Homo sapiens: one gene and its partners. The protein of the gene in region 1 interacts with the protein of each later gene in a pairwise test. Each region holds a gene or a part of one and is shown on either strand. Other genes may lie near its edges. The genes, in order: TNFRSF10D, RMDN2, RBP1 and TARS2.

The links.
Region 2: the proteins of TNFRSF10D (region 1) and RMDN2 interact in binary tests that used the Homo sapiens proteins (3 or more experiments, as listed by UniProt).
Region 3: the proteins of TNFRSF10D (region 1) and RBP1 interact in binary tests that used the Homo sapiens proteins (3 or more experiments, as listed by UniProt).
Region 4: the proteins of TNFRSF10D (region 1) and TARS2 interact in binary tests that used the Homo sapiens proteins (3 or more experiments, as listed by UniProt).

Annotation. Positions count from the first base shown.
Region 1 is NC_000008.11:23,161,023-23,168,480, forward strand, and holds the start of TNFRSF10D (tumor necrosis factor receptor superfamily member 10D precursor), read right to left. Parts: upstream 3,006-7,458; 5' UTR 2,914-3,005; coding exon 2,764-2,913; intron 1-2,763. UniProt on the Homo sapiens protein: Receptor for the cytotoxic ligand TRAIL. Contains a truncated death domain and hence is not capable of inducing apoptosis but protects against TRAIL-mediated apoptosis. Reports are contradictory with regards to its ability to induce the NF-kappa-B pathway.
Region 2 is NC_000002.12:37,920,945-37,928,308, forward strand, and holds the start of RMDN2 (regulator of microtubule dynamics protein 2), read left to right. Parts: upstream 1-4,342; 5' UTR 4,343-4,481; intron 4,482-4,586; exon of another isoform or gene 4,587-4,762; intron 4,763-7,364.
Region 3 is NC_000003.12:139,516,917-139,522,748, forward strand, and holds the end of RBP1 (retinol-binding protein 1), read right to left. Parts: intron 1,607-5,832; coding exon 1,505-1,606; intron 765-1,504; coding exon 711-764; 3' UTR 522-710; downstream 1-521. UniProt on the Homo sapiens protein: Cytoplasmic retinol-binding protein. Accepts retinol from the transport protein STRA6, and thereby contributes to retinol uptake, storage and retinoid homeostasis.
Region 4 is NC_000001.11:150,490,414-150,497,440, reverse strand, and holds part of TARS2 (threonine--tRNA ligase, mitochondrial), read right to left. Parts: intron 6,841-7,027; coding exon 6,716-6,840; intron 6,048-6,715; coding exon 5,930-6,047; intron 5,844-5,929; coding exon 5,779-5,843; intron 5,097-5,778; exon of another isoform or gene 5,031-5,096; coding exon 4,952-5,030; intron 960-4,951; coding exon 813-959; intron 632-812; coding exon 533-631; intron 1-532. UniProt on the Homo sapiens protein: Catalyzes the attachment of threonine to tRNA(Thr) in a two-step reaction: threonine is first activated by ATP to form Thr-AMP and then transferred to the acceptor end of tRNA(Thr). Also edits incorrectly charged tRNA(Thr) via its editing domain.

The DNA of each region.
Region 1 (7,458 bases):
GGAGGTGCAAGTAGGAACAGGTGCAGCCTCTGCTGGGTGGAGGACATGTGCCCTGGGGATCCAGTCCGGAGTGACTGACACCAGCCCTGAGGATGTGGTTCATCCTCCCACACCTGCTAACACAGCCCTCTGAGGTTTACACAGGGCTGCTGAAGATTTTTATCTCCTCTTCACTTTACAGGCAGGAGCTGGGGCCACACCAGTGTCACAGAGCTGGAGGGGAAGCACAGCAGGGCCCAGCTGTTCCCAGCCTCCAATCTCAGGAGTCCTTGAGAGCCTCAGAGTCCGAGATTCTGGGCCGTTGGATCTTTTCGATTCCTACTTTGATAAAGAGAAGGGCGGGGCGGAAGCCTCTGTCACACAGATTGGAACAGTCCAACGCTGACAGAGCCAGGACCTGGGGTCAGGAACTGAGCTCAGCTCCAGGCTCATCTGATGTCCTCCTGACAGCCTGAAGATGGAGACCTTATCTCCATTTACAGGCGTGGCAGGTGGCAGGGACTGGCCCCAGCTGACCACGGTTCTCCAAGTTCACAGCTGGGAATTCAGTCTTCCCTGCCACCCTCCCCTGCTGTCTCATCTGGATCCCCCGGTCATCTACTCCCACTACCAAAACTCCCGTATCCTTGAAAATTCCTAATACCATTAAGGAATGAAAGTACATAACAATGTGATGAATCACCTTTTACTTCCTAGACTAGCAACGAATGAAAGCTAAGTGTAACAAGGGTGTAGGGATACAGGCACATGTGTGAACTAGGTGTGAGTGTAAGCTGAGTTCAATGGTCTTTTGGAAGAAAATTCGTAAACATCTAAAGAAACTTCTGAAATGATTTATCCCACGGAAGTAGAAGTAAAATTCTACTTCTAAGGAGTTGCCCAATAAGCTGGTGCGCATGGACATGTGGACACACGATACATACAAGGGTATTTAGTACAATGCTGTTGGAATTAGCAAAGGCAAATTTGCTTTGGGTTATATCCCATCGGGATGGGATATAACCAGCTGCCTCTAGATGGCAACAGTGAATTAACCTGTGGCTTACCCATGTAGTAAAATACAATACCCTTGTTTAAAAGAAAATCAATCTGAATGTACTGCCATAAAACATCTAATGTGATTTGTGCTAGCTCCAAAATTTTAAAAAGCAACTGTGCATTGAAATGCATTTAATAAGGCAAGATTGATGGAGGGATCAAAGCCTCCTTTGGGACGCATAGAGTTCACATTCCCAAAACTGTGAAATTCAGGTTGCTGGTCTTGTCTACACAGGTCATCCACACATTCTCTCTTCAGGGCCACTGTCCTGACACAGCCATTCTTCTAGCTGCCTCAGGTAGGTCCACCCACTATAAACTATTGTAGAAGTCAGTTGTGTAATTTTTGAGAGGTGAAAATGTCACTGCTGTTCTGAATTTAGTATTACTTCGTTGAAAGAAAACATGGAGACTCTCATGGTTCATGTAATCTTGTTTTATCCTCCCCGTTTTGTTTTTTGGTATTACGTAAGAAACCTTAGAAAGCACTGTTGGCAGAAACGTCAGTCACTCAGAAAAAGTCCTGGCAGTCTGCACATCTTATTTTTATGTCCTTCTTGTGCACCCCACTACCAATCTCAGTTTCCAAACCCAACTCACAACGAGAACTTTACATCTTTTATGCCTAAGGAAGGGGCCATCCCGCGGTCCTGCCTATGGGATACAGAGGGGACACACGGGTGGCAGTGGAAGACACTGACTGCAAGCACCTTGGTTAACCGCTTCCTGCCACTTTCAGGGTTCTATAGGAAATGAAAGTTACAAAAAACAGCGTTGGAAAGCTTTTTCACAGGCTGTTTGTTAAACTGATCTCCAAGAAACACGTGTAACAGTGTAAACATAGGGTTAATTTTGTTTGTTTGTTTGTCTGTTTTTGTTAAGGCAGAGTCTCGCTCTGTCGCCCAGGCTGGAGTGCAGTGGTGCAATCTCGGCTCACTGCAACCTCTGCCTCCCGGGTTCAAGCAGTTCTCCTGCCTCAGCCTCCTGAGTAGCTGGGACTACAGGCGCAGGCTGCCACGCCTGGCTAACTTTTTTTTTTTTTTTTTTTTTTTTTTTGAGACGGAGTCTCGCTCTTGTTGACCAGGCTGGAGTGCGATGGCGCGATCTCGGCTCACTGCAACCTCCGCCTCCCGGATTCAAGTGATTCTCCTTCTGCCTCAGCCTCCCGAGTAGCTGGGATTACAGGCGACCGCCATCACGTCCGGCTAATTTTTGTATTTTTAGTAGAGACGGGGTTTCACCATGGTGGCTAGGCTGGTCTCCAACTCCTGACCTCAGGTGATCCGCCCGCCTCGGCCTCCCAACGTGCTGGGATTACAGGCGTGAGCCACCGCGACCGGCCTGGGTTAACGTTATGAACGAACGAACGAACGAACGAACGAAAGAGGCAACCGCTCTGTGGCTTCCTGAGGTTCACTCCGGGGTTTCCATCTTGACTCCCTCCCTCCGCTGATTCTGGAACTTCCTCTGGGGCAGCTCAGTGCGGTCCTCGCCGCACGGGACAGCCAGGGGGAGCGCGCGCTCTGCTCCCTCGCGGCCCGGTCGCTCCTGCCCAGCCCGGGCACCCCACTCTTCCCCTGACTCCGACGGCGGGTTCGTCCTGCCCAGACATGCCCGGCCGCAGGCGACCCGGGCCAAGCATCCCCACCGTGTCCCCCTCTCTCCCTGCCCACTCCCGGCGCCAGGTGCGCTCTTCCCCAGCCAGGGACCGCGGCGGAGACTCACCGGCAGCAGAACCGCGACGATGAAGACGACGAACTTAAGGATCTTGGGGTCCAGGAGCCATGGTCTGGTTCCCGACGCTGTCCTGGCTCCTGGATAGCGCCCTGCTCGAGCGCTCGAGGCGGTCGGGACGCTTTGTCCCCAAAGTCCCATGAGAAGGGAGGAGGGTGGATCGAAAGCGCCAAAAATCAATCAGAAATCGTCCCCGTAGTTTGTGCGCGTGCAAAGGTTCTCGCAGCTACACTGCCAGAATAGAACGTGCTCCTCCGCTTTTATACCCCGGAAAAAAGGCGTGGTCAGTTGTACTCCCTTCCCGCAGTCACTTCCAGGCACTCAGGCTGGGTCTCCCCCAGCACCTCCAGGAGGGCCCAGGTTGTGTGGGTGGGTGCATGGACGGACAGGAACTGGCTCTTTCCGGCAGCGGTGACCCAGGGCCTGCGGTTTGATTCCGGGTCCTGTCCAGGCTGTAGGCAGCAGAAGGGGAAGGAGCTGAGGCGCTGCCCGCTGCGCTGCTGTAGTCTGGGTAGTGAGCTCCAGAGGAGGCACTGGAGGCCCATCCTGAGCCTGCTCCCTCCCCGGGCCGCCTGTCTCTCCTCTTCTTAAACCCTGAACTACTTCCTGGCCTCAGGACTTCAGTCCACTCTTAGCTTCTGCTCCCACTCCCTCCTCCCACAGCGGCCTCACTGACCAGTGCACTGATGCCACTGATGTCTCCAGCCTCCTTGCTGCTGTGACCCAGCTCCAAGCTTCTCTGGCAGGGGCTTGGTATCCCTCAGTAGCGGGTGCCTGGCACCAAGGAGGGGCCCAGTGAACACATGAGTGGACAGAATGAAGGACACAGAGGCCATGACAGGCACCTGCAGAGGCTGAGGAGTAGGTAGGAGGGAGAGGAACGCCGGGGGCATCCCTAGCCACAACCTGGCACCCTTTGCATGGTCAAAGCACAAACACTCCCTGACCAACCTTGAGGGCTCTAGTATTGAGGCCCCATGGAGACAGGGGAATCAGGGGAGTGCCTTCCAAAGTCTGTCCCCAAGTCTATTGTCTACCCAGGTCCAACTGTCTGACCTTGGGCTACTTACCTCCCCATCCAGTTGAACACACTGCCGCTGTGAGGGCAGACCCAATGTGTGGTTTTGAAGGGTGCCAGCTTGTGACCCTAAGCAGTAAGGTCAATGGCAGGACTCCTAGACCCTTGGGATGAGTCGGCTCCTGACCCCTCACATGGTAGATAGAAGAGGATAGCGCTATAGAAATGAAGGTTTTTTGGCTCATGAGAAACCTGGGAATGAAATGTCATCCTCTCCACAGGCTTGGATTTGAGCGATGGATCACCCTGAGCACCTTCCAGGGCCCAGACAATGACCTAGGGTCAGAAATGTGAGCCAGGGCCGGGCGCGGTTGCTCACGCTTGTAGTCCCAGCACTTTGAGAGGCTGAGGTGGGCGAATCAAGAGGTCAGGAGTTCGAGACCAGCCTGGCCAACATAGTTAAACCCCATCTCTACTAAAAATACAAAAATTAGCTGGGCGTGGTGGCGGGCACTTGTAATCCCAGCTACTCAGGAAGCTGAGGCAGGAGAATTGCTTGAACCCAGGAAATGGAGGTTGCAGTGAGCCGAGATTCGTGCCACTGCACTCCAGTCTGGGTGACAGAGCGAGACTCTGTGAAAAAAAAAAAAAAGAAAAAAAAATGTGTGCCAGGTCCCAGGCACTGAGCTAGGGTCAGAAATGTGCGCCAGGTTTCAGGCACTGAGCTAGACTCAGAAATGTGTGTCAGGCCCCAGGCACTGAGCTAGGGTCAGAAATGTGTGTCAGGCCCCAGGCACTGAGCTAGGGTCAGAAATGTGCGCCAGGTTCCAGGCACTGAGCTAGGGTCAGAAATGTGTGCCAGGTTCCAGGCACTGAGCTAGACTCAGAAATGTGTGTCAGGCCCCAGGCACTGAGCTAGGGTCAGAAATGTGTGTCAGGCCCCAGGCACTGAGCTAGGGTCGGAAATGTGTGCCAGGCCCCAGACACTGAGCTAGGGTCAGAAATGTGTGCCAGGACCCAGGCAATGAGAAATGTGTGGGGTCAGGAATGTGTGCGGGGTGCAGATCCAGGCAGGAGGTGAAAGGTCAGGGACTTCAGGAAGACTGACAGCATTAACACAGAGCCACCAGGGCCTGCAGGAAAGTCCTTAGAGCACCTTAGCTCCCTTGGCCCTGGAGGGTGGACCACACAGTATAGACCAGAAACCAGACTGCAGGTAACAACGCATTCTCTGTGCCCTGTGTGGAGCACTGACTAGGGCTAATGGCAAAAGGCTGTGAGCACCTCCAAGGAACTGGGCCTTTAGAGTCAAGTTTCCACTTAAGAGGCACTTACTAGCTTGAGATGGAACACTAACTGAAGTCTCCCCTGTCACTGAAGGACATAAAATAATCTTGAAACCTGAAAAACTGATGATGTCTTCAGGAATCTTGGAAAAGCTCTAACGGGGAGGCCAGTCCCAGAAGAGTTCTATTACAAAATGGATTTTTTTTTTTTGAGATGGAGTCTCACTCTGTTGCCAGGTTGGAGTGCAGCACGATCCAGGCTCACTGCAACCTCTGCCTCCTGGGTTCAAGCGATTCTCCTGCCTCAGCCTCCCGAGTAGGTGGGATTACAGGCACATGCCACCACGCCTGGCTAATTTTTGAATTTTCAGTAGAGACGAGGGATCTTCATGTTGGCCCGGATGGTCTCGATCTCTTGACCTCGTGATCCACCCGCCTCAGCCTCCCAAAGTGCTGGGATTACAGGCGTGAGCCACCTCACTCAGCCTAAAAAATGGAAATGGTTGATATGGGATCCTGGTGCCTGAGGAAGGCAAAGAGGAGACACTCATGAGCAGGGAGCCTCTGTTCCCCTCAGACTGAGTCTGGAACTGGGTGAGGAGCTGCTGGATTCTGTGGTCACTTGGACATTGCCCTATACACAGCTCTTTACTTACTGACCAAGAGCTACTTAGTTTGTAGACAGTCATTCCTAGATGAATGGACAACATCCTACTTGGAAGGCCACCCCTCTGATGGAAGAAGGCAAAGGCAAATTGGCTAGGTGGGTTGGATTGCATGCTATTTTCCTAGCCTTATGGAAGATTTGAACAGCAGCAAAAGCCCCTGTACTTGAGTTTTTTTCTGGCTCATGGACAGTCGTCAATGTCCCGGTCATAGAGTTGGGAAGGAGAATGTGAAAGTTGATCGCACAAATTGGGTCATTCTTGTCACACCCAACTAAAACAGAGTCAAGAGGCCATGGGGAAGAAAAATCACTGTATTACCCCCAAACTGCAATTCTCTGTAAGTCTGGCAGCTGTAACGTGAAACTATTAATAGTTCTGTCTTATATCTATTGACACAACCAGCTGCTGCTCTAAGACCAGCCTGACCCACTGCAGTCACTCACCAGTCAGAGCATGCCACTTCTTCAAATTTTACAGCGCCAATGAACTTTCTGCAAAAAAAAATACTTAGTATTTCTCATTTAAAAAAAAACATCTGGCCGTGTGCGGTGGCTCACACCTGTAATCCCAGCACTTTGGGAGGCCGAGGCAGGCGGATCACGAGGTCAGGAGATCGAGACCATCCTGGCAAACACTGTGAAACCCGGTCTCTACTAAAAATACAAAATAATTAGCCGGGCGTGGTGGCGGGCACCTGTAGTCCCAGCTACTCGGGAGGCTGAGGCAGGAGCATGGCATGAACCCAGGGGGCGGAGCTTGCAGTGAGCGGAGATCACGCCACTGCACTCCAGCCTGGGCAACGGAGCCAGACTCCGTCTCAAAAAAAAAAAAAAACTTCCAAACTTCTCTTTGTTCTTTGGACGTACCAAAGACAACTTGGTCTTTGTGTATGCCAAGAATTGCAATTCTTACTTTCCAAATAAAGGGTATTAAATTTGGATATTCGTCTCTACATTTTCCATTGTTTCCAAGAGTAAGGGGAAACTGACCTAGTGTAGGGATGTCCATATGAGGCCCGACCCTATGGAAATCTCTAGGGGAGCTTGAGGAGTGCATTAAAGTAAGACACGCCCATGCTGGTCAGTAGAACCCACCCTCAGGTTTAGAAAGTGACTGTAATCAGCAAGAGATACCCCCGTGTACTCCCTTGAGGTGGTCACCAGAGGCCACGAAGCAAAAGAAGTGGATATGGGGGAACCACAGTGACGCAGAGATGGGCTGAATCGAAACACATTCCTCTTGCTCTCTCTCAGGCACATGACACCAATAAGAGCTGTTCTGTCTAGCAGCGGGAGAGACAGAGACTGCCTATAGCTATGAGGCAGATTCCCTGATGAGGAGGCCCTCAACATACTTGGAAAGTGAGACTGAGGGCAGTGCCCTGGGGGGTACAGGTGAGTCTCGACAGCAACAGAAACTGACTGTGGATTGTCTTTTCCTTACCTGGTGGAGGCTGCAAATGCCCAGAGTGCTATTAATATAAAAGAACTGAAAGAAGGTATTATTCTAGTTTGGACCACTAAACCGAACTTCCTTGGACCGAGAAACAGGCTGTTCAGTGCATAATGTTTAGCAATGGGCAGAGAGATATCCTCCTTAGAGTAATAATTTGATAGGGAAGCGGAACAGTCAACTGAAACATTGATTGTCTAAAATGGGGGGAGACACAGGCATGAAGGGCTGGCTTCCACACCTTCACTGGTGTGTGCCCCTA
Region 2 (7,364 bases), on another chromosome or scaffold:
CTGAGCAAGGTTAGTACATGCCTTTTTGAAAATGACTTTTTTCATGGAACAAAAACTTAATGTTTCTAATGAAATAGAAAGTTTCTAATAAGAATTCTATATCTTAATTAGGTATGTATACTTTTAATAAATTGATTCAACATTGAACTGCTAAGTAGCATAACATAAATATCGTTGTTAATTTTTCTTTCATACATATCTTCCTAAAATACCATTTTTAATTTGTTCAGTATAGGAGTATTAGGCCAACCATTTTATTGGATTTAAGTGATTAATAATTTATTGCACTAATCACTTAGTCTATGGAAATATTTAATAAGCTTATCCTAATGCTTTTTTCAGATAAAACATTTTTACCTTAGAAAGTCCAAGTTAGTTTCTTTTCAGAAATTTTTTTTGTAATTTTCCTGTGTTCTAGAGACTGCCTAATTTTTTTAAAACTACATCAGACATAGTATTATATTCCTCTTTTCCCCAAATTCTATTCCTAGCCTAACCTGAATATCATAAACACAAAGTAATTTTATACTCTGTGGATTAGAGGTTGTGGTAAACTGCAGAAAACCCCCCATGGGGCAAATGATCAGATTTGAGAATTCAGTTTCTCCTCTAACAGAAGCAGTGAAAGCTGAACCCTAAATAACTGAAGTGGGGGATACAAATGATGTAATATCACATTAGAAGGGCTATGATGTTCTTGTAAATGGTGCTATGAAGAGTCCCTTCAAGTGTTCTATCAAAGGCAGGGTCTGGGGGTCCAAGATGGGCTGGGTTAAGAGAAAAGGCTCTCAGACAAAGTTAAGTTTGATATTTGTCTCTAAAACTGACTATGTGGCCTGGGACAAGTTTCTTCACCTCTTGAAGCCTTGGTTTCCTCACCTGTATGTTATTTACTTCATTAGATTGTTGGGAAAATGGAATAAGATAATTCATATAAAGAACGAAGCTTGAAAACTGTGTAGAAGACTCAATAAATGTTCCTGCTGTACCTGTTGCTGCTGCCCTTTGCTCCTCCTCGTTTACAAATGATTCGGGGAACTCAGAGCTTCGGTTACACCTGGGGGACTTCTTCCTCTGCCCCTGCTCTTTGCCTGTGCGCTTCTCCCTCTCTAAATCCCTCTCTCTCAATGGTTAGGGTGTTCTTAATTTAAAAGTTTTTCCCCAGCTATTTGCAGTAAAATATTTCCTTAACCCTTTCCTTAAAATACTTTCTTAAAACCAGCCTGGAAATGAAGGTTGATTCTGCTCTTTGAAGCGGGGGTTGGGGATTTCATAGTGGTACTAATTATACCTGCAGCTCAGCCTTCAGTTTACAAATTAAGAAATTCAGCTTGTAAGTTTGATAAGATTTGGAAATAACAACAAGGAACTAGAAAATGAATAGTTAACTATATAGCATATTGGTAACTGTTAAAGGGTTAAAACTAACTTTGTCATTCAATTGCTTCCTGGAAATAAAACCACTCAAATAAAACCTAAAAAAAAAAAAAAATTGACACTCCCATCTCACATTACTATAATGAAGGACTATACATTTCCTCATGCTTTTCCCTCAAATGTACATACTACTTTCAAATAGTTATCTAATATAGAGGGTGTGCACCATGCCAGGTTCCCAAGATACAAAGATAAATGCTACCATCCTTGAAGATGTTCACAGCCTCACAAACACACAGTCACTGGCAAGCAGTAATTATATAGTGTACACCAGAGAGGTTTGCTGTAAGCTAGCAGGGAGGCATTTTGTATTCATTGAAACTCCTGGTCCTTCCATAAGTTTTGATGGGGCATGGATGAATACTTCTTATGGGGAAGGAGAGAGTGTGTAGCTTCTCAAGGGAAAGAGGTTGAAGTGGTTGAATTGGTTTTGGACGGGTGGCAAGCAACAGGATATTCCAGGCACAAGGAACAGGATAAAAAGGATACAGCTTGTGGAGAGACGATCAGTAGCTTAGCTAGTGCTGAAGTGTAGAATGATGTCTGGTGGAAGTAGCGGAGAAAAGCTGGAAAAGTAGGTTGGGGCAAATCGTGAAGGGTCTGTACCCACTCCTCCCAAATGATTGTCATGCCGTACTGGTTTGATGAATAACAGCAACTCTGAGATTCTTAGTATGTTCTGGTTTTTCCTTCAGATATTCCTTTTAGACTGACATTCCTAGTAGTGGGGAGGGGAATCATTTCTGCTTTTTTATGTCACCCCTGCAACAGTACCTGGCAAAGATAGCGCCTGTCTTTGCTATTTAGTTACAGCTTTGCCAAGGTCAATGGTTGTCACTGTCCCTGAGTTTCTACCTTTCAGATAATTTTTACTCATCAAGGAATAGAAACAAATGTATTGGAAAGGAGCAAGTGTGACATAGTCTATGTCCTGAACCTGAAGATCAAGTCAGTATCAGCTGCCATCTTCCTCTTGGAATAGACTGGTAAGGCCTTGTTCACAGCCCATACGTCACATTTTTATTGAAAGCCTCTTCTGTGCAATGTGCTGGGGATGCAGCAGTGAACAACTCAGTGGGCTCCTGGAAAAGCTTAAATTTTGTTTTAAATACTGAAAAGCTCCTTTTAAGTATTAGCGAAGAGACAGTCATGTTTCTTTGGTATCTAAATCTTGTTAAAAGAGAAAATTGTTTTGCATGATCGGTTTATATCATATTGTATTCTAGTTAAATAAAGCTAGCATTATATTGCAAGATTGCTGCAAACCATAATAAATAGGAGTGAAGTGGGTTTGTAGAAGGTAATATTTTACTAGTTCCAAATCTGAGAGGTTAAAGATTAATCTGCTCTTTTTCCAAATACAACTTAGGTTTTTGCTCTTGTTTTTTGAGACAGAGTCTCATTCTGTCCCAGACTGGTGAGCAGTGGCCCGATCTCGGCTCACTGCAACTTCTGCCTCTGAGGTTTAAGCAATTCTCATGCCTTAACCTCCCGAGCAGCTGGGACTACAGAAGTGCGCCACCACACTCGGCTAATTTTTGTATTTTTAGTAGAGATGGTGTTTCATCATATTGGCCAGGCTGGTCACGAACTCCTGGCCTCAAGTGATCCGTCCGCCTCAGCCTCTCAAAGTGCTGGGCTTACAGTCGTGAGCCACTGCGCCCTGCTACAAATTACTTTTAATAAAATGACCATGGCCAGGCTTACTTATTCTTCAATGCGGCTTGCCTGAAGCTCAAAAAATCATCTTAAAGAGCCTATAGAATCCCTGAATCCCTATCCGTAAACAGTAGTATATGGATTGCAAAACAAGCCTTCTGGATTCTTCATGGCTTTATGGGTGTTGTCTGCTGTTGCTGTTTTGAGAAAGAGTGTACCCATTTTTAATTCTGCTCAATATATTGGTGGGAAGTTTAGAGATTAATGTTATGCAAACCTAAGCTTGAGGCAGTAATACTCAAGGTGCGGACAATACAGAAGCAGTGTATGTACTGTTTTGTTTTTGTTTTTGAGACGCTCTATCACCCAGGCTGGAGTGCGGTGGCGCGATCTCGCCTCACTGCAACCTCTGCCTCCGGGTTCAAACGATTCTCCTGCCTCATCCTCCCAAGTAGCTGGGATTACAGGCGTCCACCACCACGCCCGGCTAATTTTTTGTATTTTTAGTAGAGACAGGGGTTTCGCCACGTTGGCCATACTGGTCTCGAATTCCTGACCTCAGGTGATCCGCCTGCCTCAGCCTCCCAAAGTGCTGGGATTACAGGCGTGACCCACCGCGCCCGGCCCAGTTTTTAAGAGCGTATTTAGCAGAATTAGTTTCATTATACAAACCACAGAAAGCTGGGTAAAACCTTAAATGTCAGGCATCTGAAAAAACAGCGGCTTTCATCTAAAGGCAACTCGGAATGGCGGGGAGAAGGAAGAGGCTGTCAAAATTGCTCATTAAAAGAAAACGTGAGATAAAGCTATGAACACGGGGCTGCAGATATCAGTAATTAGTGCAAGGCGTCTGCCTTTAATTCAGTCGTGAGGAGTAAAGTGCAAGGTTGTGCCTAGAAAGGGCACAGAAAAAGGTTTAACTAGGGGAGAGGGAGTGGGTTTGAGAGCCGGAACGAAGCGAGCTGGCGGTGGGCGTGCGGAGTGGCAGCAACGCGAGAGGGAACGCGCTGGGGCTAGCGCGGAGGCCCAGAGCCCAGGCGGGGGAAAAGGTGCCGACCGGCTTCGAAGGGAGGCGACGGCCGAGACACACGGTCCGGCGCGAGCCAGGCGCCCCGCGACGTGCAATTTTATTTTGCAAAAGGTGCACCCAACGCCAGTCCCGGTAGAGTTGAACCCACCACGAGAGGGAGAGGGGGCGGGAGCGGGGGGCCGAGCGGCCGCGGGCTCCTCCCCCGGCGCCTCCGCTATCTGGGTCAGGACGCGACGGCCGCGGCGCGGGACCTTAGGACCCGCGGGCTCCAGGGCTACTGTCCGTCCGCCACTGCGCGCCAGCAGGTCCTGGTCTCCGCTCTCCAACAGCTGAAAGGCCGGCGCAGTGAACACAGGTGCGTGCGCAGTCTGGGAGGGGGCTGCTCAGCCGCTGGGGGCCGGACCGCGCCGGGGACTTGCGGAGGGAAGCGGAAATACTTGCGGTGGGGGCGACTGCACTTCCGGGTCGGTGTGTCCCTGGCGAAGCTTGAGCCTGCTAGCCAGCGGTGCTCTGCGTTCCCGGGGCTGGAGCAGCGGCCCATAGTGGCTTCCCGGGTTCATCCCTCGCTGACCCTGCGCCACGGAAGCCCTAGCCCCGGAGGTCGCTGGTATTTCCTCGCACGCGGACCCTTCTGGGGTGCGTGGGGAACAGGCAGTTTGCTGCCTCGGCCCGGCTGGTCCCTGCAAACCCCAAAGAATTTCAACAGAGACACTTGCTGGGCTCTCGCTCGGCTTTCAGCCTTGCGCAAACATTTTGTTTTTGTTTGTGTGGGGTTTTTTTTGCTCTCAGACTCCGTCTGTGCCTATTTCACACAAAAACGAAGGCCGGATTATCAGTGCTGCCAACATAGGGGAATGAGGCAAACACTTGGGAGCCCTAAATTTAAAATAAATTATAAAATACAAAAAAACCATGAAAACCTGATGAAATGAACAATAGAATTCACTTCGAAAGTACCAGGTTTTCCAGGACGCTGTAGGAAATCTGATCACTAGTTCAAGGTCTCAGTGCAATTCTCTTAGGAAACTTAAACCTCGGGCTTTTTTGTAATGTCTCTTTATCCTTGCAAAATTTGTCATACCTTCCCCGAGTTTATTAGAGTTATGCATTTTATATTTTTCTCCTCTAAGGGTCTGCTGATGAAGTTAATGAATATCTGTGCTAGATTTATGGTGAAAGCATTATAATTAATTTAGTAAAGCATAATTTCTACATCAAAAAATTAATTTTAAATAAAACTAGAACATGGAAATGAAATGTTTCTTCAGACATTTCTTCAGAAAACATTTCATATTCTATTTTCTTTAGAGTCAACATTTTGATGTCATTTTAGAATACTTGATTCTCATCTCAACCTTTAATATTACACAATAATACACATTAATTAAGTGCCATAATCTATATTAAAATGTCATTTTCCATTGTTATTTACTAGCACCTTACAAATTGAAACGTAACATAATACTTTGTATCTGATTATTAAAATATTAGAGTTTTAAAATCTGTTTGGTAAAGTTTTTAATTACTATATTTTTTTATACTACAAGTGTATACTATTAACATAATTAGAAGTATGAAAGCTAACAAGGCTGGAGGCAGTGGCCCATGCTGCTTATCCCAGCACTTTGAGAGGTGGAGGCAGGATTGCTTGGGCCCAGGAGTTCGGGACCAGCCTAGCAACATAGGGAGACTCACTCTCTACAAGTAATGTAAAAATTAGCCGGGCGTGGTTGCCCACGCTTGTGGTCCTAGCTACTAGGGAGGCTGAGGCAGGAGGATGACTTGAGCCCAAGTGGTCGAGGCTACAGTGAGCAGTGATTGTACCACTGCACTCCAGCCTAGGTGACAGAGCGAGACTCTAAAAAAAAAAAGCTATGTAAATGACTTCATACAACCTTTGAAATTATTCTGAAGGCAAGCAAGTACTCTGATGTATTTTGTACATTATTTTTAATGTGTCATTTTTCAAATTATCAGTGTTGAAGCACATTTGTTTTATGCTGTTATAAAACTCAAACATAGCTTGAACTGTTAGTCTTTAATTGTGTTTGTTTAAAACATCAGCTCCGTTGATTCTATTTTTTTCTAGTTAATTTTTGTGGTTCTGAAATAATATTTCAGCTTTGAGCATCTCTGTTCAGTCAGTACTCTCCTTCACCTCCTTGTTGATGCTTTCCAAATCTCCCACATGTTGTGGGTGCATCCAAGAGTTAGGAACAGGTTGTCAAAGGTGACAGTTTTCACTTCCCAGTTGGGTGATCACTGGGTAAGTGACTTGACACCTGTGTGCCTCAGTTCACTTATCTGCAAAATAATAATAGGACCTGCATGGAAGAGATGATTTGGAATTGGTGCAGTTCCTAAAGAAAGGGCCAAGCAAAATAAGACTTTCCCACCTGCTGAAACCTGGTCCTGTCTCAAGAATAAGTTCTCCTTCCTAGGTAGATTTTTACTTCTACTTATTTGCTTATTAAATGAAAATATTTTCAAACTAGGCTATATTTCTTAATGTAAAAGTCCAAGGTATGGGCAAAAGAAAGCAATCAGAATAGGAAGATTTCCTTTAATAGACCTCTATATCAGCGAATGGACATCCTGCCTGAATAATTTTATTGACAAAAATAAAGATGATTAAACTTGATGTGTGAATATTAGCTGGAATGCAGTTGTAATTAATGGGCATAGAGTGACTTATTTTTTTGCAATAAGCTTTCAAGATAATTTAGTTTTGTGATACAATTTTTTTGTAGAATACATTTACACATCTAGCAATAATTAGCTACAATTTCAGCTGAAGTTACAAATTGATTGGAATCTGTTGCTGGCATGTCTCCTGGATGAGCTGGGAGTGGGCAGATGGTTATAGTTCCCAGTTATACCAATTAGGTGAAAAAAAATTTTTTTAAGTTAATTCCAGGCAAATTTCTGTGAGGTAAAGCAGGCCAGATTAAGTACCAAGGCTTTCTCTGGAATCTTTGGTTTAAAAGAAGGAATTCTTAAATCTCTTGGATATAATATTCACTAACACCTGAGGTAATTTCTGGAAGATTATTTTAAAGTCAGTCCTTCTCTTTGACACTTAGGCCTGTAATGAAGTGTAGAACATCCAAACAGGATACTTTCTGTGTTCCAGGCATATACTCTAGTGAAATAGGAATCCAAAGACGTTCTTATTTTAAGCAGGCTTTTCAGAAATAGATTATGGCTGCTTGTTCTCTCAGACCCTCTTCCATAGGGC
Region 3 (5,832 bases), on another chromosome or scaffold:
AACAGTGAAAAGAAAGGGCTGATACCAGCCCGTAGATGGGGTGGATGGTCTGAGGGTGGTGACATCTCATGACATCTCTGAAATTAAATCCAATAGGTAATTACTTATGTTTAAGTAATTTTATGCTTTGGGCTTAAAATTCTGTCCAGTTCCATTTCATTCACAAATAATGATGAAGCATCTCCTTGGTGTACTGTGCAGTTATATAGACATTCTCTGTTGGTTGGATCTCTAGGGTGGAAGGTATCTTCTCCTGCTTTTGTGGCACTCACTATACTTTGGCCACAATTAGATACATAACATGGTAGCTACTTGATACACAAATGATTGAATGTCAGGCCACTCTCCCACCTCCCATTCTAGACCCAAGCCTGTGCCTCTGGAGAGAAACACGGTGCAATTTCAGGACATGTGGCTGAATTTATCCACTCTGCCCATGGGTGGCACTAGGAGAAGCTGGCCTCAGAAGCCCTGGAGAAAAAGTGAGCACAGTGGGCAGTGAAACTTCCCCCAAACAGACGTTTTGAACACAGATCACTTTATTGGCATGGCTTTGTTTTAAGAAAAGGAAAAGTGACAAAGCCAAGAGACAGACTCTGCTAACAGATGCCTGGGGGTGGCTGGACATTTTTGCCTCATGCTGTGCAAAGAGGGGGATCCTGGCCCACACATCCTGCTGATTCCTTGGGACAAGGTTGTCTGCCTGGGCCTCACTGCACCTTCTTGAATACTTGCTTGCAGACCACACCTTCCACTCTCATCTCCTGAAACAAAAGCAGATGTTGGTCATTGGCCAGAGCAGAGTCACACTTACGGCAAGAACTCTAAAAATACTCATTGGCTGTTATTTTTCCCCAAGAGTTGGTTTAAGTAACCAATTGTTTGGAAAGACAGTTAAACTGTATAGTGGAGTGCTCTGCAGCACCCTACAGACAGAGCTGGCTGAGAGGAATGGATGTGGCTCAGAGCTGACCAACAGGACCCCTTGACGCTTCCCCTCCCGAATCACCTCCCGCTGACCCAGATTGAGATCATATCTTAGAGAAGCTTAGAGAATCCTTCTTGGCTTTGGCCTATACAATTTGGCATGGTGAATATATACATCATTTGGGAGCAAATGTTTGTTCTGTCACTTTCTAGTTGTGCAATTTGGACATGTAATCTAATCTTTCAGAGCCCCCAGGTCCTCATCTCTAAAATAAGAGCCATATTCCTATTCTGAGAGAATAGAGTTATAGAATGCAAAAGGGCTTAGCTCATTGCTGATGCTTAATGGATATAACTCCTCACCTCTTCCCTCTGATTAGATGATTGGGTCAGCCTAGACCTTGAAAATACATTGCTTGGTTTTTAAAGTCACCCAGGCATCTTTTCCAGGCCCTTGGAAGAGAAGCTTTAGAACAGAACCAAGGCCCATCCATGGTGCCTTTTTCCAAGGTCCATCTGGACCTCAACAATGACCAGGGCCTCTGGGGACCCGGCCTGACCCAGCCCAGGAACCTACCAGGTGCAGCTCATCACCCTCGATCCACTGGGTCCAGCCACGCCCCTCCTTCTCACCCTTCTGCACACACTGGAGCTTGTCTCCGTCCCAGCTCACTGTTGTCTGCCAAGAAAGAGACACATTTGTCAATCCTGAGCAAGCGGGGAGCTCCTGGAGGCTGGGGGAGGGGGCAGCTCCCAAACTTGATAATCTGGGATGTGCTCACGTCAATTTCATTGTAGAAAATCTGCAGCCTAATACTCCCTGTCCATCACATGCTTTTATTAAAGTGTGTAAATCAGTTTTAAAATTTATGAAAACCTTCATAAATTTTATTTAAAAGGGTAATTAGGAGGGAAAAAGTCATTGGAGTGGGGCTGTCATTGCAAGCACTGAGAATGGGGCTAAGGTGGAGAGGAGGGCCTGAGGGCTGAGCACAGCTGGGTGTGAGGGGTGAAGGATGTTTTCCAGAATCTTATGGTGAGGGGCAGACTTCTCAGAGTGTACCCTGACCATCCCCAGACACTTCATTCATCCATTCATTGTTTCAACCTATGCTAAGTCCTGGGATACCAAAAAGACCCCACCCCTGCCCTCAAAGCGCTCTTCATCTCACAGGGAGAATGACCTTAGATATAAATAACCCAGTGAAGGTACAAATGGCAGCTGTTAGCTGCCTACCTGCTCTGCCAGGCACTCTCTGTGCTGTCTCTGAAGCCTCATGCCTATCCACGTGAGCAGGGATTAGCATCTCCTTTTCACAGATCAGCTTAAGGGACTTGCCAAGTTCACCCATGTTGTTCAGTAGAAGAACCAGGTCTGAACACAGATCTGTGGGGCTCTGAAGGTCCCCACCCCAATGGACTAAATTGCTTCTTGAAGCGTTCATGGTCACCAGGGTTATAGGCCAGAGGCTGTGGGAGCCCAGGTGAGAGTCCAGGGAGTGGGATTCACTAGGGCTGGGCTCTAAGGAGAGAAGAATGGAGCTGAAGGAGAGGAAAGGAGGCGCTGTGGAGAAGAGCTCCCAGTAGCCCACCACCCGGTGAAGGCCTGAGGTGGGACAGCGGGAAGTACACTTAGGAGCTCATCAGGAGGGCACCAGGGAACTGAGGAGGAAGGCGAGGAAAATCCCACAGCCCAGCCTGGGCTTGGCAGAGCACAGATGAGCACTGTGACACCCTCTACACCCCACATTTGAGCCCCCACATCTTCCCTGAGCACTGTGAGCCCTGCCATGTGCTGGGCATGCTGAAGGGAAGACAGGCAGGAGGAGGAGGCCCAGCCTGTGTCCTGGGGAGATTTCAGTCTTAGTGGAGCAGAAAAGGCCCACCTAGCAACACGGGGCTGAAAAAAGTGTTGGACTTCAGAGGCAAGGTGGTCCTGTCATCCCAGCATAGCCATGAGTGTGCCCTAGACTGGGACACATGTCGCAGATGTGGGCACACAGAAAGTGCAGTGGGCATCACTCATATTTGGGGCTGCCCACCTTCTTTTGAATAGCCGTCCCATATGGGGCAGTTCTGTGTTATGAGCCTGGCCTCCCCACAGTAGTGCTCAGCACTCTGTTTGCCCCTTGCTCACTGTGTGGCTCTCAGCAAATCCTTCCCTTTTCAGGGCCCCTGTGCTCTCATCTGTCACATGGGGACATTAACTCAGGCCTTGAATGTAGAGAGCTAAGGTTCTAGGATCCTTGTGTTCCTTGCCATGCTCAGCTGAGTCAGGACAGTCAGCAACAGCCGAATAAAGGATTTGGGAGAGGAGACTTATGGGAGATGGGTGTGGCGTTAGTGGGGCCACTCCCTGCAGGAGGACCTCCCCACCCCAGGCCTCCCACCTGGGCCTGCTGATCACTACTGCCCCCTGCTGTTGGGGTGAAGCCTGCAATGCGACACATGCACGAGGGAGGCAGGTGGAGCCACATGTGCTCCCCCAGCTTTGCATAGGAGTAAGTCTGCTCTCTGCTCCAGAGAGAAATGGGGCATAAAAGGACTTGGGGGGCAGATCCTCTCTCTGATCCAGAAATTCACTCAGGGCACAGTCTAGTCCCAGGCTAGAGAGAACGCAAAACATAGTGTGGTTAATGTGTGGTGAGACATGTCATGGGTAAAGACTACTCATGACCTCATGCCATAAATAAGACAGGACACCCATTCACTTATCCGTGCTCCTTCCATCCCAGGCCTGTAGAGGGAAGTGGGGACCCAGAAATCAGTCCTCAGCTTCAAGAAGCTCATAAGAACACTTGGTTTCCTCATCAACTGATCTTCTCTTCATGTGTTTATCCAGAAGGCTACTGTGCATATGAAGGGTTCCGGATTCACTCAGAGGCACAAGAGACAATTGCTTGTTTTCAGCTATGACATACATTTTTGCCTCTTCTGGAAATATTAGTCAGGAAGTATAGTCATAGTCTTTGTATTGGAAAATTAAAAAAAAAAACACCGAAGAAGAAAATGGTAATAAAAATGATACATGTAGTTTTGTTTCTTTAGAGATGATTACTCTAGGCCAGGCGTGGTGGCTCATACCTGTAATCCTAGCACTTTAGGAGGCTGAGGCAGGTGGATCACCTGGGGTCAGGAGTTCGAGACCAGCCTGATCAACATGGTAAAACCCCGTCTCTACTTCTTTACTGAAAATACAAAATTAGCTGGGCGTGGTGGTGCATGCCTGTAATTCCAGCTACTTGGGAGGCTAAGGCAGGAGAATTGCTTGAACCCGGGAGGTGGAGGTTGCAGTGAGCTGAGATAATGTCATCGCATTCCAGCCTGGACAACAAGAGCAAAATTCCGTCTTAAAAAAAAAAAAAAAAGAGATAATTGCTCTAACATTGTATATGTTACAATGTATGGTAAATTTCCATCCACTCTTTTTTTTTTATATCTATCTATCTATCTACATGTTTCTGTTTTATACAAAATTAGGATTGCATCATTTATGGTTTCATATCCTCATTTCTTCATTTAATTGAAGCAACTTCCCATTTCAACAAATATTCTCCATAAGCATTATTTTAATTGCTACGTAATATTCTAGGAAGTAGCTACATAGTGTGTGTGTGGTCCACCACAAAATGAAAATGAGGGATTCTTTGCTCAAAATCATTAAGATTTTTAAGCTGGTGACAGCAGAGCATTAAACCAAGTGAGGGGCTTTCTGAGCCTGGGGCCCTGATGGACTGCCTTTGTCACAGGCCCACAAAACAGTCCCTGATAGTATTTGATTGTACATACATACTGTTATTTAGCCAATTACCTATTTTGGACATTTAAGTTATTTATTTATAATTCTGTGCTACTATAAATAAGACTTCTTTGTATACATAGTTTTGAACACATTGTTCCCTTAGAAGAAATTTCCAGAGGAGGAATTGTTGCATCAAAGAGTGTGCATATTTGTAAAGCTTTTGATGAGTATTGCCAACTTTATCTCCAGAAAGCTCACACCTATTTACCTTCCAACACCAGGGTCAGAGAATGACCATGAGAGAGATGTTTATTAATGGTAAAGCATGCTTTTGCTCCTGGGGCTACTGTGTTACCATTTCCAGATCGCTGGCATCTTTTAACAGGGGCCATCTGGATATAAACAATAATAATACCTTAGCCCAAAAGAATGACAGATGGCAGAATTTCAGGCAGCTTGACAGATTGAGGGATAGAGAGAGCAGAAGTCTGTTGGGGTGTAGAGGAGCCTTTCTGAGAGCCCTACAAACCAGGCTTCTTAAAGGGAAGGATCCCTATCACATGCATACTGCATCAGTCTCCCAGAAAGCCTTTCTTAACCCCAAGCTTCTGTTGACTCTGATACTGGACAAAGCAGAGATTATTTTCTTTGACCTCAGGTGATCCACCTGCCTTGGCCTCCTAAAGTGCTAGGAGTTGGACAAAGCAGAGATTATTCTTGTCTGTATTGGATGTAGAGGGGTGGCTGAGCTCAGAGAGGTTCCATGACTTTCTCTGGTCACCTAGTAAATGAGAGAAAGAATCTGGGCTGGAGCACGGGCTTTGCATGACTTGGTGCCCACTTGTTTCCCAGTCTAGGGCAGGGCACCTGCCAGGTGCCCACGAGATGGTGGCTAAAATCATTGGGGGCTGCAGAAAAACACATGGACATTGTGCTAAGACTCCGAGCAGACTCCTGGAGGAACACCCTTAAGTTCATTCCAACCATTGTGGGGGTATGGGTGCTGGGAGTCAGAAAGAGGTCTTAAAGATTTCTGCCTGTAGAGGTCCCCACAGAGAAGTGCCCAGGCTGTCATGGCCTCAAAGGAGTTTCTAAAAATGGGAGGGGCATTCTAGGCAGAGTGAAAAAGGATGAAAGGGGTAGGAGGTGATGAGGGAGAAATG
Region 4 (7,027 bases), on another chromosome or scaffold:
GCCATGCTGATTGCAACCACAACCTATTAAATACCAGGTCCCATCTCTATGCTCCCCGACTGCAGACCACACAATTGTAGTATTAAAGGTCACCAGCACTTTCAATATTTATGTTTATGATTCCAAACCAGCCCCCCCACCTTTTTTTTTCTCTTCAAGACGGAGTCTCACTGTATCACACAGGCTGGAGTGCAGTGGCTCAATCTCAGTTCACTGCAACCTCCCCTTCCTGGGTTCAAGGGATTCTCCTGCCTCAGCCTCCCCAGTAGCTGGGACTACAGGCGCTGCCACCACACTGGCTAATTTTTTGTATTTATTTTAGTAGAGACAGGGTTTTGCCATGTTGGCCAGGCTGGTCTCGAACTCCTGACCTCAGGTGATCTGCACGGCTCAGCCTCCGAAAGTGCTAGGATTATAGATGTGAGCCACTGTGCCCGGCCCCAACCCCCATCTTTTAACACAAACACCTTAGCTTCTTCTAGTCCCTCAGCCCCTCCCTGGTCTTCTTTCCTCTAGACCTGGGTCCCCTTACCCTGATAAACGCCACTAGTGCATTATACACCCTTGTCCCTCGTGGCAGGAAGAAGCAGCTCCCAGGGCTCAGTTCATGGAAGAAGAAGAGCTCCTGTTCCTGGGGTCAGGAATAGCAATATTGGGTCACCTCAAGGGCAAGGAGGTGGCTTTGGAACTCAGAACAACTGACGGAGCTGCTCAGTCTGTGTGACTGAATCTGCTCCCAATTTCATAATCAGGTTCTGTCATCTCTCTCCAACCCTTATCACCATCCCTCCCTATCTTCCCAATTCCTGTACCTTCCCAATGCGCCGGTGGTCCCGCAATTCTGCTTCCTCCCTCCATGCTTCCCAGACCCTCAGCAATTCTGTTGTGGGGAAGGAAATCCCTGACACTCTCTGCAGTGTCTCTGGGGCCCCTGAAGACCTCCATAAGGATGATGAGTTCTGTGTGAGGACATAGGGGATCAAAGGAAAGATGAGGACTGAAGGCCCCCACCTTTTTCAAGACTCAAATGATACTCTCAGTGTTAAGTGTCACAGGTATGCCTCTTGACAACAATCCCACCAGTAGGATGAACACCTCCATCCTCTAGACACCATTCTTCTAGATTAAAGTGTTGAAATTGCCTGACTCTTAATTCCTACATACAACCTGGTCAGGCCTAACCTTACCTTGCCATCTCTTTTTCTCCCCATTCTCATTACCCCTTTACTTAGTTCCTTCCCATTCTAATCAATGACTGCTTAGAGGAATAACCATAAGCTCTGGTCAAATGTCAGTCTATTCCTCCATTTATCAATATCCTATACAGCTGCTAGAAAAGTCAGTCTTCTATACCATATCCCATTCCTGGCCACATGAAATCCAAAAGCCTCTGCCTGCTCTCTCCTTTAACAGTACTAATGAGCCGGGCGCGGTGGCTCACGCCTGTAATCCCAGCACTTTGGGAGGCCGAGGCGGGCGGATCACGAGGTCAGGAGATCGAGACCATCCTGGCTAACATGGTGAAACCCCGTCTCTACTAAAAATACAAAAAAATTAACTGGGTGTGGTGGTGGGTGCCTGTAGTCGCAGCTACTCGGGAGGCTGAGGCAGGACAATGGCATGAACCCGGAAGGTGGAGCTAGCAGTGAGTCGCGATCGCACCACTGCACTCCAGCCTGGGCGACAGAGCAAGACTCCATCTCAAAAAATAACAAACAAACAAACAAACAAAAAAGTACTAATGAGAGGCCGGGCGCAGTGGCTCACACCTGTAATCCCAGCACTTTGGGGGGCTGAGGTGGGTGGATCACAAGGTCAAGAGTTCAAGACCAGCCTGACCAACATGGTGAAACCTTGTCTGTACTAAAAATACAAAAATTAGCCAGGTGTGGTGGCACGTGCCTGTAACCCAGCTACTCAGGAGGCTGAGGCAGGAGAATTGCTTGAACCTGGCAGGCAGAGGTTGCAGTGAGCCGAGATCAGGCCACTGCACTCCAGCCTGGGCAACAGAGCAAGACTCTGTCTCAAAAAAATAAAAATGAAATAAAATAAAACTGTTAAACAGTACTAATGAGAAACAGTCTATACGTGTGTGTGTGTGTGTATATACATCTGTCACCCAGGCTGGAGTGCAGTGGCGCGATCTCGGCTCACTGCAAGCTCCGCCTCCCAGGTTCACGCCATTCTCCTGCCTCAGCCTCCCAAGTAGCTGGGACTACAGGCCACCACCACCACACTCGACTAATTTTTTTTTTCTTTTTTTGAGACGGAGTCTCGCTGTCGCCCAGGCTGGAGTGCAGTGGCGTGATCTTGGCTCACTGCAGGCTCCACCCCCCAGGGTTCACGCCATTCTCCTGCCTCAGCCTCCCAAGTAGCTGGGACTACAGGCGCCCGCCACCTCGCCCAGCTAATTTTTTGTATTTTTAGTAGACAGGGTTTCACCGTGTTAGCCAGGATGGTCTCGATCTCCTGACCTCATGATCCGCCTGCCTCAGCCTCCCAAAGTGATGGGATTACAGGCGTGAGCCACTGCGCCCGGCCACACCTGGCTAATTTTTTGTATTTTTAGTAGAGACGGGGTTTCACGGTGTTAGCCAGGATGGTCTCGATCTCTGGACCTCGTGATTCACTCGCCTCAGCCTCCCAAAGTGTTAGGATTACAGGCGTGAGCCACCACGCCCAGCCCCTATATGTATATTTTTTGAAACAGAGTCTCACTCTGTTGCCCAGGCTGGAGTGCAGTGGTGCAATCTTGGCTCACTGCAACCTCTGCCTCCCAGTTCAAGCAATTCTCCTGCCTCAGCCTCCCGAGTAGCTGGGACTACAGGTGCATGCCACCACGCCCAGCTAATTTTTTATTTTTAGTAGTGACGAGGTTTCACCATGTTGGCCAGGCTGGTCTTGAACTCCTGAGCTCAAGTGATCCGCCCAACTTGGCCTCCCAAAGTGTTGGGATTACACGTGTGAACCACCGCACCTGGCCGACAGTCTGTATTTTACAGCACTTTTTAACTTTTCCTTTTTCCTGAATTAGTTGGTTTTCATTATCTTTTTTTTTTTTTTTTTTTTTGAGATGTTGTCTCGCTCCGTGGCCCAGGCTGGAATGCAGTGGCACAATCTCAGCTCACTGCAACCTCTGCCTCCTGGCAGAGTTCAAGTGACTCTCCTGCCTCAGCCTTTTTTGTAGCTGGGATTACAGGCGTAGGCCAGCACACCCAGCTAATTTGTGTATTTTTAGTAGAGACAGGGTTTCACCATGTTGGCCAGGCTGGTCTCGAACTCCTGACCTCAAGTGATCCGCCTGCCTCACCCTCCCCAAAGTGCTGGGATTACAGGTGTGAGCCACCATGCCTGGCCTGGTTTTCATTATCTTTATGAGGTGAATTTACTGGTAGGACAAAAAGGAATTAATAGCCTCATTTTATAGATGGGGAAAATAAGTAAGATTTACCCAAGGCCACCGCGCCATGGGGTTTTGCCATGTTGGCCAGGCTGATCTCAAGTGATCCACCCACCTTGGCCTCCCAAAGTGCTGGGATTATAGGCATGAGCCACCATGCCCAGTCTAAGTTCAGAGCTTTTTGCTCTACACATCTGCATTTCCCCTTGCTCCCTTGTAACTCATCCCATTCCATCTAGTAACTCTTCTTGTCCAGAACAGTATTTTCTTTTCTTTTTTTTTTTTTTGAGACGGAGTTTTGCTCTTGTTGCCCAGGCTAGAGTGCAATGGCACGATCTTGGATCGCCACAACCTCCACCTCCCAGGTTCAAGTGATTCTCCTGCCTCAGCCTCACAAGTAGCTGGGATTACAGGCATGTGCCACCACGCCCAGTTAATTTTGTATTTTTAGTAGAGACGGGGTTTCTCCATGTTGGTCAGGCCGGTCTTGAACTCCCGACCTCAGGTGGTCCACCCACCTCGGCTTCCCAAAGTGCTGGGATTATAGGCGTGAGCCACCATGCAGAACGGTATTTTCATAAAAAGCATGCCCTTTACTAAAGGTATTTTCCCTGTGCCTGTCAAATGGTGTTCATCTTCCTCCTGGACCACGCCCCCTCTCTCTACAACCCTTCCCTGTATGACCCATCCAGCTTGCTCACACCCTCCTGCTCCACCCCTCCACCCCCCTTAATACTGACATCATATTAGGGCATCTGAATTGGCTTCTGGGCCCTAGCAGGCTGTCCAGTGTGTGCCATCAAACGGGTTTTTAGAATGTGGGGACAAAGTTTCTTTCTCCTGTATTCCCCGCTCAGCTTATGAGAGTACAGGGCCAGGCTCAGTGGCTCATGCCTGTAATCCCAGCACTTTGGGAGGCTGAGAAGGGAAGATCACTTGAGATCACCCTGGCCAACATGGTGAAACCCTGTCTCTACTAAAAATACAAAAAGTAGCTGGGCATGGTGGTGCACACCTATTATCCCAGCTACTCGGGAGGCTGAAGCAGGAGAATTGCTTGAATCCAGGAGGCGAAGCTTGCAGTGAGCCAAGATCGCGCCACTGCACTCCAGCCTGGGCGACCGAGAGACTTGGTCTCAAAAAAAAAAAAGGGGGGTGCCGACAGAAAGTATCACCTTCCGATTCTCCTGCTCATCCCAGTGAAACCAGGAATTTTTTTTTTTTTTTTTTTGAGATGGACTCTCGCTCTGTTGCCCAGGCTGGAGTGCAGTAGTGCAGTCTCGGCTCACTACAACCTCCGCCTCCCAGGTTCAGGCAACTCTCCTGTCTCAGCCTCCCGAGCAGCTAGGACTACAGGTGTGTGCCACCACACCCAGCTAATTTTTGTATTTTTAGTAGAGACGGGGTTTCACCATATTGGCCAGGCTGGTCTCAAACTCCTGACTTTATGATCCATCTGCCTCAGCCTCCCAAAGTGCTGGGATTACAAGCGTGAGCCACCATGCCCGGCTCAAAATAGGAATCTTAACCTAACTCTGTCCCACAACTGACCGATAGCAGCTTCAGTCCTCCAATCTGTCCAGTATGCCGAAGGTGGGGGCCCTGGCAAAGGTCAACCAATGTGCCACACCTAGGAGAAAGAAGAGGCCAGTTAGTGATTTTCAGAATCTTCAGCTTCTAGCTTTCTCCCTCTCATGGTCTTTAGCTGACAGAAGAGGTGAAGAGAAAGGAACTGTCCTACTGAGAGAGGGCAATGGCAGATAAAAATCAATTCCCTGGCAGGGCGCGGTGGCTCATGTCTATAATCCCAGAACTTTGGGAGGCCAAGGTGGGTGGATCACGTGGTCAGGAGTTCGAGACCAGCCTGGACAATATGGTGAAACCCCGTCTCTACTAAAAATATAAAAATTAGCTAGGCATGGTGGTGCATGCCTGTAGTTCCAGCTACTCGGGAGGCTGAGGCAGAAGAATTGTTTGAACCCGGGAGGCAGAGATGCAGTGAGCCGAGATCGCGCCACTGCATTCCAGCCTGGGTGACAGAACAAGACTTCATCTCAAAAAAAAAAAAAAAAAAAAAAACTAGCCAGGCATGGTGGCACATGCCTGTAATCCCAGCCACTCTGGAGGCTAAGGCAGGAGAATCACTTGAACCCAGGAGGCGGAGGTTGCAGTGAGCCGAGATCGTGCTACCGCACTCCAGCCTGGGAGACAGACCAAGACTCCGTCTCAAAAAAAGAAAAAAAAAAAATCAATTCCCATTCCCATTTCTTTTTCTGGAGCAACACAAATTACCTTCTATCTTTCTTCCCTTATCGCATTTCTGGCCTTCTTCAATGCTTCCCCACCTCTCTGTTTGCCTTAATCTTGACAACTCTTACCCATATACTGTTGCTGTTGGACCTGTCACTTTCTCCTCAATCAAGTGAAGCTTAAAGGGGTTATCCTGGAAAAAGGTAGAAGGGAGATTGAAGAAAAGTGTTTATTCCCACAAAGATGTCCTGGAAGAGCCACCTCTTCCCTCCACCCCACCTTGAACAACTGGCGAAGCTGATCCCGTGAAGCCTCTAGCCTCCGGAAGGGTCGAGCAGCAGCTGTAAGTTCCTGGCAAATCCGCTCCAAAACAGGCAGCTCTGAGCCCCGGATTGTCCTGGAAAGAGGAGAATTGGTTGGGTTGCATCCTATGAGGTGCATCAATCACCTGGGTGACACACCTGTTGGCTAGCGGGTAAGGTCCTGTCCTTCAAGAGAAATCTAGAGTTATAGGCAAAGACAGACAAACTCAGAGAAAATATAAATAGGATATCAGGTAACAGATATTACAGCTGGAGAAAAAGCTCTATGCATGAAGTTAAAAGTTGAATGCAGGAAATCTGGATAGACAAAGTTAGAACAATAGTAATGAGGGCGATTAAGTAAAACTTGAATTTATGAAAGCTAACAAGTAACAAAGTAAGTTGTTTCTTCTTTTTCTTTTTGTTTTTTTTTTGAGAAAGTGTCTTGCTGTGTCACACAAGTTGGGTGCAGTGGTTAAGATCATGGCTCACCACAGCCTCAACCTCCCAGGCTCAAGTGATCCTTCCACCTCAGCCTCCCAAGTAGCTGGGACTACATGTGCACCAGCCAAGAAGGTAAATTTCAAGCAAAGTTAGAAGAGGGACATGGACTAGCACAGAAGGAGATACTAATGTCATAGTTGAGACCTAGAGAAACCCTTCTCCTCCAGCTTCCTCATCCAAATGGAGCATGCCCAAGGCCCCTGAAAAGAGCCTCAGAAACCATCCCAGAATCATTCTCCTCCTTCCTTTCATTACTCACCTCTCCTTTCCCAGGAAGAAATCATGGTAAAAGCCATATTCTGTACTTGGACCTCTGCAGAGAACAGCACCTAGGAATTGTTCAGCTGCTGCCCCCAGGACATGGGTGCTGGAGTGCCAGAACACCTGGGTTCACAAAAAAGGGGTTCACAAGTTCATAAACTTCTCCCTTAACCCCTAGATCTCTGAGCTCTTCCTCACAAAAGCTGGTAGGAAAGCCGGTATGGTTCTTCTAGGAATAACTACCACAAAATGGGGATCCTAGATTTTGGGGGTGACCACTAAAAAGTAACAAGCTTAAAAAAAAAGGCTG